Regions from separate parts of the Homo sapiens genome. Here region 1 is reported to be linked to region 2. Evidence: microRNA targets listed by miRTarBase, many of them from high-throughput screens and not tested one by one. Region 2 holds a microRNA gene; the other region holds the end of a gene's coding sequence.

The links. The annotated mature microRNA hsa-miR-9500 reads AAGGGAAGAUGGUGACCAC and lies in region 2 at 2,811-2,829, shown strand. An mRNA with a match to its seed (bases 2 to 7 or 8) in the 3' UTR can be bound and repressed. Matches are read on the target gene's strand: a 7mer-m8 pairs with bases 2 to 8, a 7mer-A1 pairs with bases 2 to 7 and ends in A, and an 8mer does both.
Region 1: the mRNA of NCR3LG1 is a reported target of hsa-miR-9500. The part of its 3' UTR that is shown has no 7-base or 8-base seed match.

The regions. Positions count from the first base shown.
Region 1 is chr11:17,371,732-17,377,102 of GRCh38, reverse strand. NCR3LG1 (natural killer cell cytotoxicity receptor 3 ligand 1) reads right to left here. Exons shown (of 5, transcript NM_001202439.3): 5 at 1-5,097. The coding sequence ends at 4,591. Among named protein-coding and RNA genes, the nearest start is that of KCNJ11, 14 kb to the left of the region's middle. RefSeq lists an enhancer at 225-763 and a silencer at 5,185-5,371.
Region 2 is chr2:218,820,282-218,825,655 of GRCh38, forward strand. It overlaps MIR9500 (microRNA 9500), which reads left to right and starts at 2,809; the gene lies at 2,809-2,873. PRKAG3 (protein kinase AMP-activated non-catalytic subunit gamma 3) reads right to left here. Exons shown (of 14, transcript NM_017431.4): 11 at 4,258-4,295; 12 at 3,941-4,087; 13 at 3,365-3,597; 14 at 2,027-2,795. The coding sequence ends at 3,481. RefSeq lists an enhancer at 2,581-3,780.

The DNA of each region.
Region 1 (5,371 bases), not on the chromosome of region 2:
CTCCTGTTCTGTTCACCCACAGATTTGTAGGCCACTACTACTAAGCATCATACAGGGGGTCTGGAATCCCATGAGGGTGCATGTCTGGGAAGGCCTATGTGTTGTTTTTTACATTATAGTGCCATGTGTCAGGGTGGTTACCCAGAGCCTGCCATTCCCAGCAGGACTTTCAACCAGGAGGAGACGCTGAATTCTGAAAGCCTCCCCTCCATATGGCTTCCAATTTTCTTAGATCATCCTTCTTATGTCTTTTTCTCCAAACTTCCGAGCTTTCAGCAATTACAAGTATGGTGTTATAATATTTGAGATCTCCCAGGTATGGTCCTTTTCCTCTGCTTTTAAAACAGGAGGAGGCATTTGCTATTACCCGGCCAACTTTTCCTAGCCTGAGGGTGTGAGGCTTATCTTTGGGGAAAGTGTTTTCTGGCACCAGGGAGGAAATGCTTTCCTGGGAGGAGTTAGTTACTCAGTTGAAAGTGTTCCCATACCATGTTCCATTTATGCCTGACAAGTCTTTAATGGCTAAAGGTAAAGCTAACAAAGGGAATGCTAAGACAGTAAATACCAAGTCATCAAGAGGTTCCTTAGTGTTACTGAACTGAGCAAACCGCTCAGGACAGACCCAGCAATTTGTCTTGTATAAATGGGACATGGCTGACACAGTAGAGGCTAAAGGGTGTGACGTATTACCAAACCCAATAAAAAGTCCTAGCAGACTCGGCCCTACTGGGTAGAGGCTTCTTTAAATGAGGGACCATTGTTGTTTTGGAAGTACTTAGGGAGCCCAAAGTGAGGAATTATTTAACTAATTAGTATTCTCACCACCTCAGAGGCCTTTTCTGTTGGGCATGGGAATGCCTCTACCCAGTTAATGAAGGTATGCACCCACACCAAAAGACATTGAATGCCATTTATTTTGGGCATATGGGTGAAGTCTATCTGCCAGTCCTCCCCTGAGTAACTTCCCATCCTTTGATTGTGGTGGGGAAGAAGTCATCTGTTAAAGGGATTATTTTTAAGAGGGTTTCACGAGTATTAACAACCTATTTGACCATTTTTAGTAGATTTTCTCCTGAGAACAATCTTTGGATGCACTGATGTCTTATGCTTTCCTAAGTGAAAGGCTCAGTGGAGGATTTTAAGAATCTTCCATTGGCTGGAGGCTGGCAAGCGTACTTTGCAATCTTCTGATTGTAACCATCCTGAGGGTTGAAAAGTATACCTCGAGAGGTGGCCCATTCTATCTCTGTAGGGGAATACTGAGGCTTTATTTCCCTTATGTAGCCCTCCCAAATCAGAGGGGCCTCAAGTGTTTTGGGACCTTGGGGCCTTCTTACTGCTGACTTAGCTCTTTGGTCTGCTAGCCTGTTTCCTTTCGCTATTTCATCTACCCGCTTCTGATGCCCTCTGCAATGTCTGACCACTAATTCTCATGGGAGGAACACTGAGGATAATAGCCTGTTGATGTCTTGATGGTATTTAATGCAAGACCCATTAGCGGTGAGGAAGTGCCTTTCCTTTCAGATGGCAGCATGGGCAAGGAGAACTAGAAAGGTACACTTGGAGTCAGTATAAATGTTAGCTGTCTTTCCTTTGCTTAGTTCAAGTGCTCTTGTGAGAGGGATCAGCTCAACTGATTGAGTGTGTGTGCCTGGTGAGAGAGGCACATTTTCAATGTTATTTAGGGTGACTACTGCATATCCCACTTTTCAGACTCCCTGTCCTACAAAAGAGCTCCCATCCATAAAGTGGGTCCAGTCTGGATTTTCTAGGGGAATTTCTTTGAGATCCTCCCTAGCGGCATAGGTTGTACTACAGTCTGTTCACAATTATGTTCAGTTTCTCCAGTTTCCTCTGGGAGGAAAGTGTCTGGGATCAGGCAAGGTCAGGTTTTTAACTGGACTGCAGATTCCTCTAGCAGCAAAGTCTGATACTTGAGGAGGCAGCTGTCTGTTAGCCAGAGACTCGCTTTAGAGGACAGCAAGCCTGCCACATTATTTATGTGAGGCATAAACAGGTTATTCCCCAGGGTTAACTTGGTGGCCTCTGGGACTAGCAGGGCCACTACTGTAACTGCTCAGAGGCAAGCTGGCCATCCTTTAGCCTCCAAGTCAAGCTCTCTACTTAAGTAACCTACTGGCTGTTGAGCTGGGCCTTGAACTTGAATTAAAACTCCCAGGGTCATTCCTTTCCTTTATGATACATAAAGATTAAAGGACTTCCCTACAGAAAGACTGGGGGCTGGTGCTTTAAGCAAGGCTTGTTTTAACTGATTAATGGCCTTTTGACCTTCAGGTTCCCAGGTCAGGAAGTGAGTTTTAGCCACTTGAATTTCTTTTATAAGGTGATATAAAGGGCAACCTATTTTATCATACCTGGGTATCTATAACCTACAAAAACCTGTAATGCCCAAGCATCCCTCAGCTGCTTGAGGGTTCTGGGGAGAGGAAGGGAGGAAATGGGATTAATCCTCTCCTCGCCTAGTGCTCTTGTTCCCTTCTGACAAGACCAGACCTAGGTACTTTACCAAAGTCTGATAGAGCTGAGCCTTAGATTTTGAAGCCTTATATCCCTTTCCAGCTAGGAAATTAAGGAGAGCCTCAGTGCCGTCTCAAGAAACTTCCTCAGTTGGGGCACAGAGGAGAATGTCATCTACATATTGTAAAACTTTAACCTGAGAATGGAAGAATTCGAAGAGATCTCTTGACAATACTTGCCCAAATAGGTGGGGGCTATCTCTAAATCCCTGAGGCAGTACAGTCCAGGTTAACTGGGTGGTTTGATTGGAGGGGTCTTCAAAGGTAAACAAGTATTGGGAGTCAGGGTATAAAGGTATACAGAAAAAGGCATCCTTTAGGCCCAGAACTGTGAACCATTTAGTTCCCTTGGATATTTGAGTTAGCAAAGTATAGGGACTGGGATCTACTGGATGAATCGTAATCACAGCCTCATGAATAAGGCAGAGGTCCTGAACTAGTCTCCCTTCCCCATTGGATTTTTGCACCCCTAATATTGGGGTGTTTCAAGGGCTACTGCAAGGCCTAAGGAGGCCTTGTGCCTTTAGGTTATCAATGCTGGCGTCTAGCCCTTTTCTACTTTCTGGCTTCAGAGGGTATTGTCTCTGGTTAGGAAAAAAAGTGGGATCCTTGAGGTGGATCCAGACTGGTATAGTGGTTATAGTCCGGCCACTTCTTCCCTGAGTTGCCCAAACCTCTGGGTTAATACTGGTTTCCACTAAGGGGAGGCGGAGTTTGTCCTGGAGCCATAAGGATGGTGGCCCCCATACGTGCTGGAATATCTCTATCTAATAAAGGAGTGGGACTTTCAGGCATGACTAAAAAGGCCTGTGTAAACAGTAGGTCCCTCTGACTGCAACTAATAGGTTGAGAAAAATATCAAGTTAAAGTCTTTCCTGAGATGCCCATCATGGTTGTGCTATGGGAGGAACGAAGGCCTGAATTGGAGAGGAAAACAGAAGCCTGGCTCCAGTGTCCAGAAAGAAGTCTACCTTCCTCCCTTCGAACTCCAGAATCACCTGGTGCTCCCGGGTAGTAACAGCAGTCTGAGCCACTGGAGCCAGGGAGTTGAGCCCCAGGACCCATCAGTCCTGCTGGACCATTTGTGAGACTGGCTCTGGACTCAGTGACCTATGCTTCCCAGGACAGTCTGCCTTCCAGTGGTCCCCATTGTATACTGGACAGGGTTGAGGTGGCTTCTTCTTGCTGCCTGGGCAGTCCCTTTTGAAGTGCCCTAGTTTGCCACATTGGTAGCAACTAGCAGGTGTACCTTGGGGATACTGGGTTTTATACAAAGTGGCCACCAGAGTCTCTGCCTTTTTCTTGTGTTTCCTCTCCTTCCCCTGGGCCTCCTCCTGGTCCCTATTATAAAAGACCGAGGTGGCTACCTTCAGGAGGTTTTGTAAGGTGCTATCTAATCCCATGGCCTGTTTCTCTAGCTTCCTTCTGATATCAGGGGCTGTCTGAGTAATAAACTTGTCTTTCAAAATTAGCTGTCCCTCAATTGAATTATTTATGTGAGGTATAAACATACCTAACAGGAGACAAGGAAGTGTGTTTCACTACAGCCTCTCTCAGCCTTTCCAAAAAGGCTGAGGGATTTTCATCTAGTTTTTGATCTATCATGGAGAGTTTGGGGTAATTAAGAGGCTTGGCTCTGGTCCTCTGTAGGCCCTCTAATAAGCACATTTGAAAATGTTTTCTTTGCCACTCATCTAAGGTACCACTGGGGTCCGAATTATGTTGTTCAAGGGGCACTGCCTCGCTTCCTATTGGGTATGTGAATGCTGGTTGTTTCTCACCTTCTTTCCTTATTGAGTGGCTATAGAAGACATGTTGTTCATCTCTGAATTTTTCTGCTGCCTGCAGGGCTACCTGTTTCTCTGTAGTAGTTAAGAGTTTAAGAGCAACATAACATCACCCCAAGTAAGGTCAAACACCTGAGTTAGGTTTTGGAAAGCCTCTATATATCTATCAGGTCATCAGAGAACTTGCCCAGGTCCCCTCTTATTTGCCCAAGGTCCTGTAATGAAAAGGGAACTTGGACCCTAGTGGCACCAGGTCCATCAGGCATTTACTGTAGGGGTAACAGTAAAGTTGGGGGTTGGGAGGATAGAACTGGAGTTGTTGATGTTGTGGCTGGAGGAGGTTCCCAGATAGGGGAGACAGGAAGGATTGGGGCATCCGGAACTGCATCCGAGTGTTCCCTAGGGGTTTGTTTCTCAGACTTTGTGGAATTATCATCTATGGACTTGCCTGATGTAACTGTTAGGAGAGCAGGGTCAATTCTACAACACTGACAAAGATCTGGGTTGTCTCGCAAGGCAAAGAAGGCTTGCACATAAGGAACCTCGGACCATTTGCCCTCCTGTCTGCAGAAAACATCTAGTTGTTGAATAGTATTAATATTAACACTTCCCTCAGGAGGCCAAGCCTCCCCATCCTGCAGCTGGTAAGACGGCCATGCCCGAGTGCAAAAGAATATGAGGTGCTCTTTCTTCAGAGTCTGAGTGTCAAAGGAGTTCCAGTGTTTCAGAATGCACTTGAGAGGAGTATAGGCTGAAGATGATTTGTTACATATCTAGAAAAAGAGGAGAGAAAAGGCATCCCTTAGTCTCCTTTGTCCTTCTGGAGTGATCGACAGCAGAGAGAAAAATGGAAGGGGCGTCCCCCTTCTCCTCTTCCCTCCCATTTCCTCAGGTTCCTGGTGACCATTATAGGTGCTGCCCATGGATCAAAGCATGACCTTCACCCATGAATCCGGAGGAGCTAGCTTGTGCTCACCTGCACAAGGTCCTAGCTCTCTGCCCTGCTGGTTTCCTAGACCTACTTGGCCCATAAGGCTCCTGAGATTC
Region 2 (5,374 bases):
GTGCATTTTGGCTTGGTAATAGGAGTTTGTTTCCAGGTCATTATTTATGACTCCAGTTTTAATATGCATATCAAATAAAAACTTGGGCAATTGTCATGAAAGGAACATGCAGGATATTTTAATGAACACTTCTGCATTTAAGGAGGTCTGGGAGAAGGGTGGTGAGAATGGTAATGAGTCATACATCTATGTTGCGCCACTACCCTTAGCCATTGCTTTTCGGAGACCCTAGGCCTAATTAAATAATAGCTAGACTCCATCATATGACAAATGATTGACTAGCTATGAGCATGGGGCATCCTCATTTCTCAGCCCAGTCTCATGTTCATCATGTGCTATTAGTCATAAGTCTCTAGCATTTATAGAAAATAAACACAGTTGCTCAGTTCCCACCCCCAAATGAGGAAATTAGTATGGAATGGAGCCCTGGAATCTGCATTTTGTAAGGCTTCTTTGGTGATCCTGATGCACATCCATGGTGGAGAGCTCTGAAGGGGTTGTGAGAAGAGAGACGGGAAAGCGAAGGAAGCTACAGAAACCCAGAGAGGCCCGCAGAGGTCTGAGGAGGGGCTGGGGGCACGGAGGCAGCAGTGCCTGGAAAACCAGTCCCGCCCCAAGTTCACATGCAGGAACAGAGTGGGCGGCACAGCGGGCTGCACACAGGGCACGTCTTCGATTCAGAGCTGGAGTGGAAGAAGCAGCCGCCGCAGCCCCGGTGGAAACTCCGTGACTCTTTTCTAGCAGCCATCATGGCTGCAAGGGCCGGGCTGTGACCAAAGGAGGGGTCTGAGGCAGGGAGGGTGGCATGTGCCCTTACAGAGAAGGTCCCACAGAGCAGAGCCACCCAGAGGCACAGCCTCAAAGGACTGACCTGTTACAAGATCCCAGAGCCCTAGGCTCCCCAGGAACACTGTCACTGGAGAGATCCTCTCTGGGCCCAGACCCAACCATCACCCAACTCCAATCCTCTCCCTTGAGCCCAAGACCCTGGACCTTCCCTGGGCGGGACCACAGCAGAGCCAGCACTGACCCTCAGGTTTTGGCAAAATGTCTAGTGAGGGAACATCTTCATTTATGGTCCAACCAATTCAGTACAAAGCCTCTGCCTTCTCGCTCTGTGAGGTAAGGGGAAGGGGTCATGTTTTAGAGACAGTAATCTCCCCCTTCTCTGGACAGCCAGACATGTGGTGCCCGTTGCCACAGGGAAGGTGACATAGCAGAAGCGAGCCTTGGCTTTGGAATTTTAAAAGCTTGATTCTGAAGGTGGGTGGCAAGAACTCAGGACACTTACAGTGCATTTGGAAGAATATATGATGGGTTAAAGAATAAAAGCCTCCTCTCTCCCCCACTGGTCAAGATTCCATAGGTTGGCAGGGCTTGGGGAGCAAGGCGAATGTTGACATTTCTGGAATTCTTGAGAAAAGGACCCTGAGAAGGAGGTTGCGGCTAAAGAGGGGGAAAGTATGACAAATACTCCATATAGGTTTGGAGGTGATAAGTGTAGGCAAGCACTGGGTAGAAGAACCCACACGCTTCCTGGGTAGAGCCTGGGAAAACAGCAAGCCACAGAGCGGAACAAGGGACTGGGCTGTCTATCTTAGCAGTTGGCCTGGAACAGAATTACTGAGCTTCCTGAAGCCAGAGGGTGTGCAGGGCCAGGAGCTAGAATCTTCCACATGCTCCAAGCCACAGGTCCCCAAATAGGCTTTGTGGAAGTGAAGGAGCCCCTGGCAGACCTTGCATGACCAACTGATGACCAGATGGGGAGGGGATGTCCAGGCAGGTGCGAGCATGGACGGATGATGATAGCCGAGGAACAGAGTCTTACATGACTTAAAGCCACACCCCCACCCGACCGAGCTTAACCCCAGGAAAAGGTCAGGGGGAGACTTTGAATTGACTGAGATTAATTTCTACCACCTGCTGAAACGGGGTTCCTAATAGAAATTACATTCTGTGTTAGAAAAATAAAGTTATGCTTCTTGCAGATTAGAGTTTGTAGGCTGAGTTGTACCTACTATATAAGTAATGAATTAATTTTTTCTTTATGATTTTGTAAAGAAAAGAGAAGAAAGAAATTTCAGTAGAATAGCGCTACATTGCAAGAGAAACGGCACTTGTGATTTTTATCCATTTTCCTTCTAGTCTTTGAATTTAGAAAGCACAAGTCTCTTGCCACAAGTTCAGGTCAAATGACTGCAGCATTTTGAGTGAAACCAATAAAATCTAAGTTCATGGATTGTTCCTTTTGTTTTGTTTTCTCAATTGCTCATTCTCAGGGGTCCATATACAAGGCCATCCATCCCTGGAGACTAAGAACATGGCTCACTGCGAGAGCTAAGGAGTTTTCTGGACAAGAATGGAGGGAGGACTCCCCACCTCCAACAGGCAGTTCTATAAATAACGGCTGCTCCATGGTGGCCCCTGAAATGCAGCATTTCAGCAGCCTTGAAATGACAAAGCCTGGAGAGTAGGAGGGCAGTGGCGACGTTGCTGGGAACAACAGCTGGGACTCCCAGGAGCTGAAGGCTGAAGCCATAGGTAGCCCAGAAACCGAGGAATCCAGAAGCCCTGACTAAACCCACTGGGGCCATCCGACCCAGTCAGGCGGCAAGGGGATGGGCGGGCATGGAGCACAGATGGCCCTGGGGTAATCCTAGTGCCTCTGGTTCAGGGACCTCCAAGCTTGACTCAGCTGTTCTCCTTAATTTCATCATCCCATGGTGCACTGGGCATGCCCGAGGGCTTCTGGGAGCACAGGTAGGGCAAGGGCAATTTGGGAGGGCTGAAGAAGCCTGTGGGGAAAAGAAAAGGGAAGATGGTGACCACATAGGAGGGACAGCGGCCTTTCCAACAGGGGACCCTTGCCAGCCATGGTGAGTAGATGGAATCTGTGCCCATCCTCTGCAAGCCCCTAGCAAACGTGTGACCAGGAAAGAGTCTGAGATCATGTCACATTTCCTGAGATGAGCACGTAGGTAGAAGCTCCTTCCTTTAAGCTTTAGTTCTTACTGGGGATGGAAATTCCATCCAACAAATGTTGATATAGCTTGCTTCCTTCTAAGGGGATTTCCAGCAGGTGGAAATTGAATTGTGAGGGAACAAGTAAATCTTCCCAGAGTGTCTGAAGTCACATCGCAGCCTTAGCTTTTAGCCGGGGCTTTGTCCCTCCCTTCTAGGACAGTCTCCATGACCTCAGCTGAAAATGGGACAAAGTGGGGACCTGTGAGTCCTTACACTTGCAGTTTTCACAGGGCTGCTCAGCTTTGAGCTTGGCCACTCCCATCCTCAGGGTGTCCCAATCTGAGATCCAGGAAATCAGGAAGACTAAGAGGCTGGTGTCATGGCCCAGGGCAGAGCCTACCTGAATCATAGCTGAACCAGCAAATGGGGGTGGGGGAAGATGAAGGCTGAGTTCTCCAGTTCCCTTCATTGGCTTCCAGGTGTGCAGGTGGCTTGGGATTGAGGACTCAGATCTTCTCAGGCCCCGAGGGCATCGATGCCAGCAGGGCTGAGCACCAGTGCCTGAAGGATGTCGGAGAGGGAGACCACGCCCAAGAGATGCTGGGTCTCGTCCACTAGCACCAGCCTGTGTACCTGTGGGTCCGCAATGTTCAGTGAGGGGGCAGAGCCATGGGGCTACAGCAGCTACTGAGGTTGGTGCCAAGAATCAGGGGAAACAACCCAACATGACTGAGGGAGAGAGCGTCTCCTAGAAACCAGTTAGGGATGGTGTGACCGGCCTAAGGTGATCAGTTGGCAGTGACCCCTGGCATAAGGGCCCCATGGACAGGACCAGGTGCAGGCCAGTGTGGGCACCAGGAGTTGGTCATGAAATGGAAGGATAGGCCAGGTGCCCGATGTTCAGGGATGGCTGGAGCCGTGCATGAGAAGGACTGGGCTATATGTGTTGGGGGCATGAATGGAGGGCACACGGTACCTGCTCCCGAGCAATCCTGTCGATCACTTCCCCCAAGCTCTCGTGGGGCTGGCAGGAAAGGACTCCCTCCAGACATAGTGTCCTCTGCCTCAGGGCTTCTCCCACACTCATGTCCAGGTGGTTGTAGGTTTGCTGGGCAGCCAGGTGCTGGGGCAGAGAGAGAAGTATGGCTCCTAGTCACCCCCTTGCCTGGGCTCCTACCCTACAGATGTCAACCCCTGCATACTTGTCAAGGTCCCCCTGGTCCACAGAGGCCCCCCACCCATCCCCACACCCTTAGCCTCCCTGCAGCATCCCACCTTTCCAGCGACACTTACAATCACATCAAAGCGGGAATAGAGGCCCACGACCTGACCTGCAGAGGGTGGTTGTGGGGGGTGGGGGGAGAAAGACAGGGAAGAGGCTCCGGTCAGAACCGGGGTGCTGTGTAGAGGGCCTAGGGCTATTTGCATCAGGGTGCCACTACCAGAACCCAAGGATCAAACTTAGCATCCCAGAGTGAGACAGCCTGACATTGAGCATCCTGAGGAAATGCAGTGTGAGTAACATGGCACCACCTACAAAATAGTCTAGCCTCGAATTTATTGCCCAAATCTCTTCAAGCCTTTAGATATAATTTCAGTTTACAGGAAACCCAGGAATAGAGAACAAAGTAAAGGCCAGCTCTAGAAAGCAAACAGACAAATCTGGATGTGGGGTATCCTATAGGACAACTGACCCAGGCTTTTCAACTCACCCACGTCATAACAATTTAGGGGGAATGGAGCTGTTATAGATTTAAAGAGATTTAAGGAACAAAAGACACGAATGTAAACCATGGACTTCAATTGGATCCTGTTTTGAACACATCAACTATGAAAAATACATTCCCTTGGGAGGCCGAGGTGGGTGGATCACAAGGTCAGGAGTTCAAAACCAGCCTGGCCAACATAGTGAAACCCCATCTCTACTAAAGATACAAAAAATTAGCCAGGTGTGATGGCACGCACCTGTAAACCCAGCTATTTGGGCGGCTGAGGCAGGAGAATTGCTTGAATCTGGGAGGTGGAGGTTGCAGTGAGCCAAGATTGCACCATTGCATTCTAGCCCAGGCGACAGAGCAAGACTCTGTCTCAAAAAAAAAAAAAAAAAAAATTCTTGGCCGGTCGCGGTGGCTCATGCCTGTAATCCCAACACTTTGGGAGGCCAAGACAGGTGGATCACTTGAGGTCAGGAGTTGGAGACTGGCCTGGCCTATATGGTGAAACCTCATCTCTACTAAAAATACCCCCCAAAAATTAGCTGGGCGTGGTGTCATTTGCCTGTAATCCCAGCTACTCAGGAGGCTGAGGCACAAGAATCACTTGAACTCGGGAGGCAGAGGTTGCAGTGAGCCGAGATGGCACCACTGCACTTTAGCCTGAGTGACAGAGGGAGACTCCATCCCAAAACAAC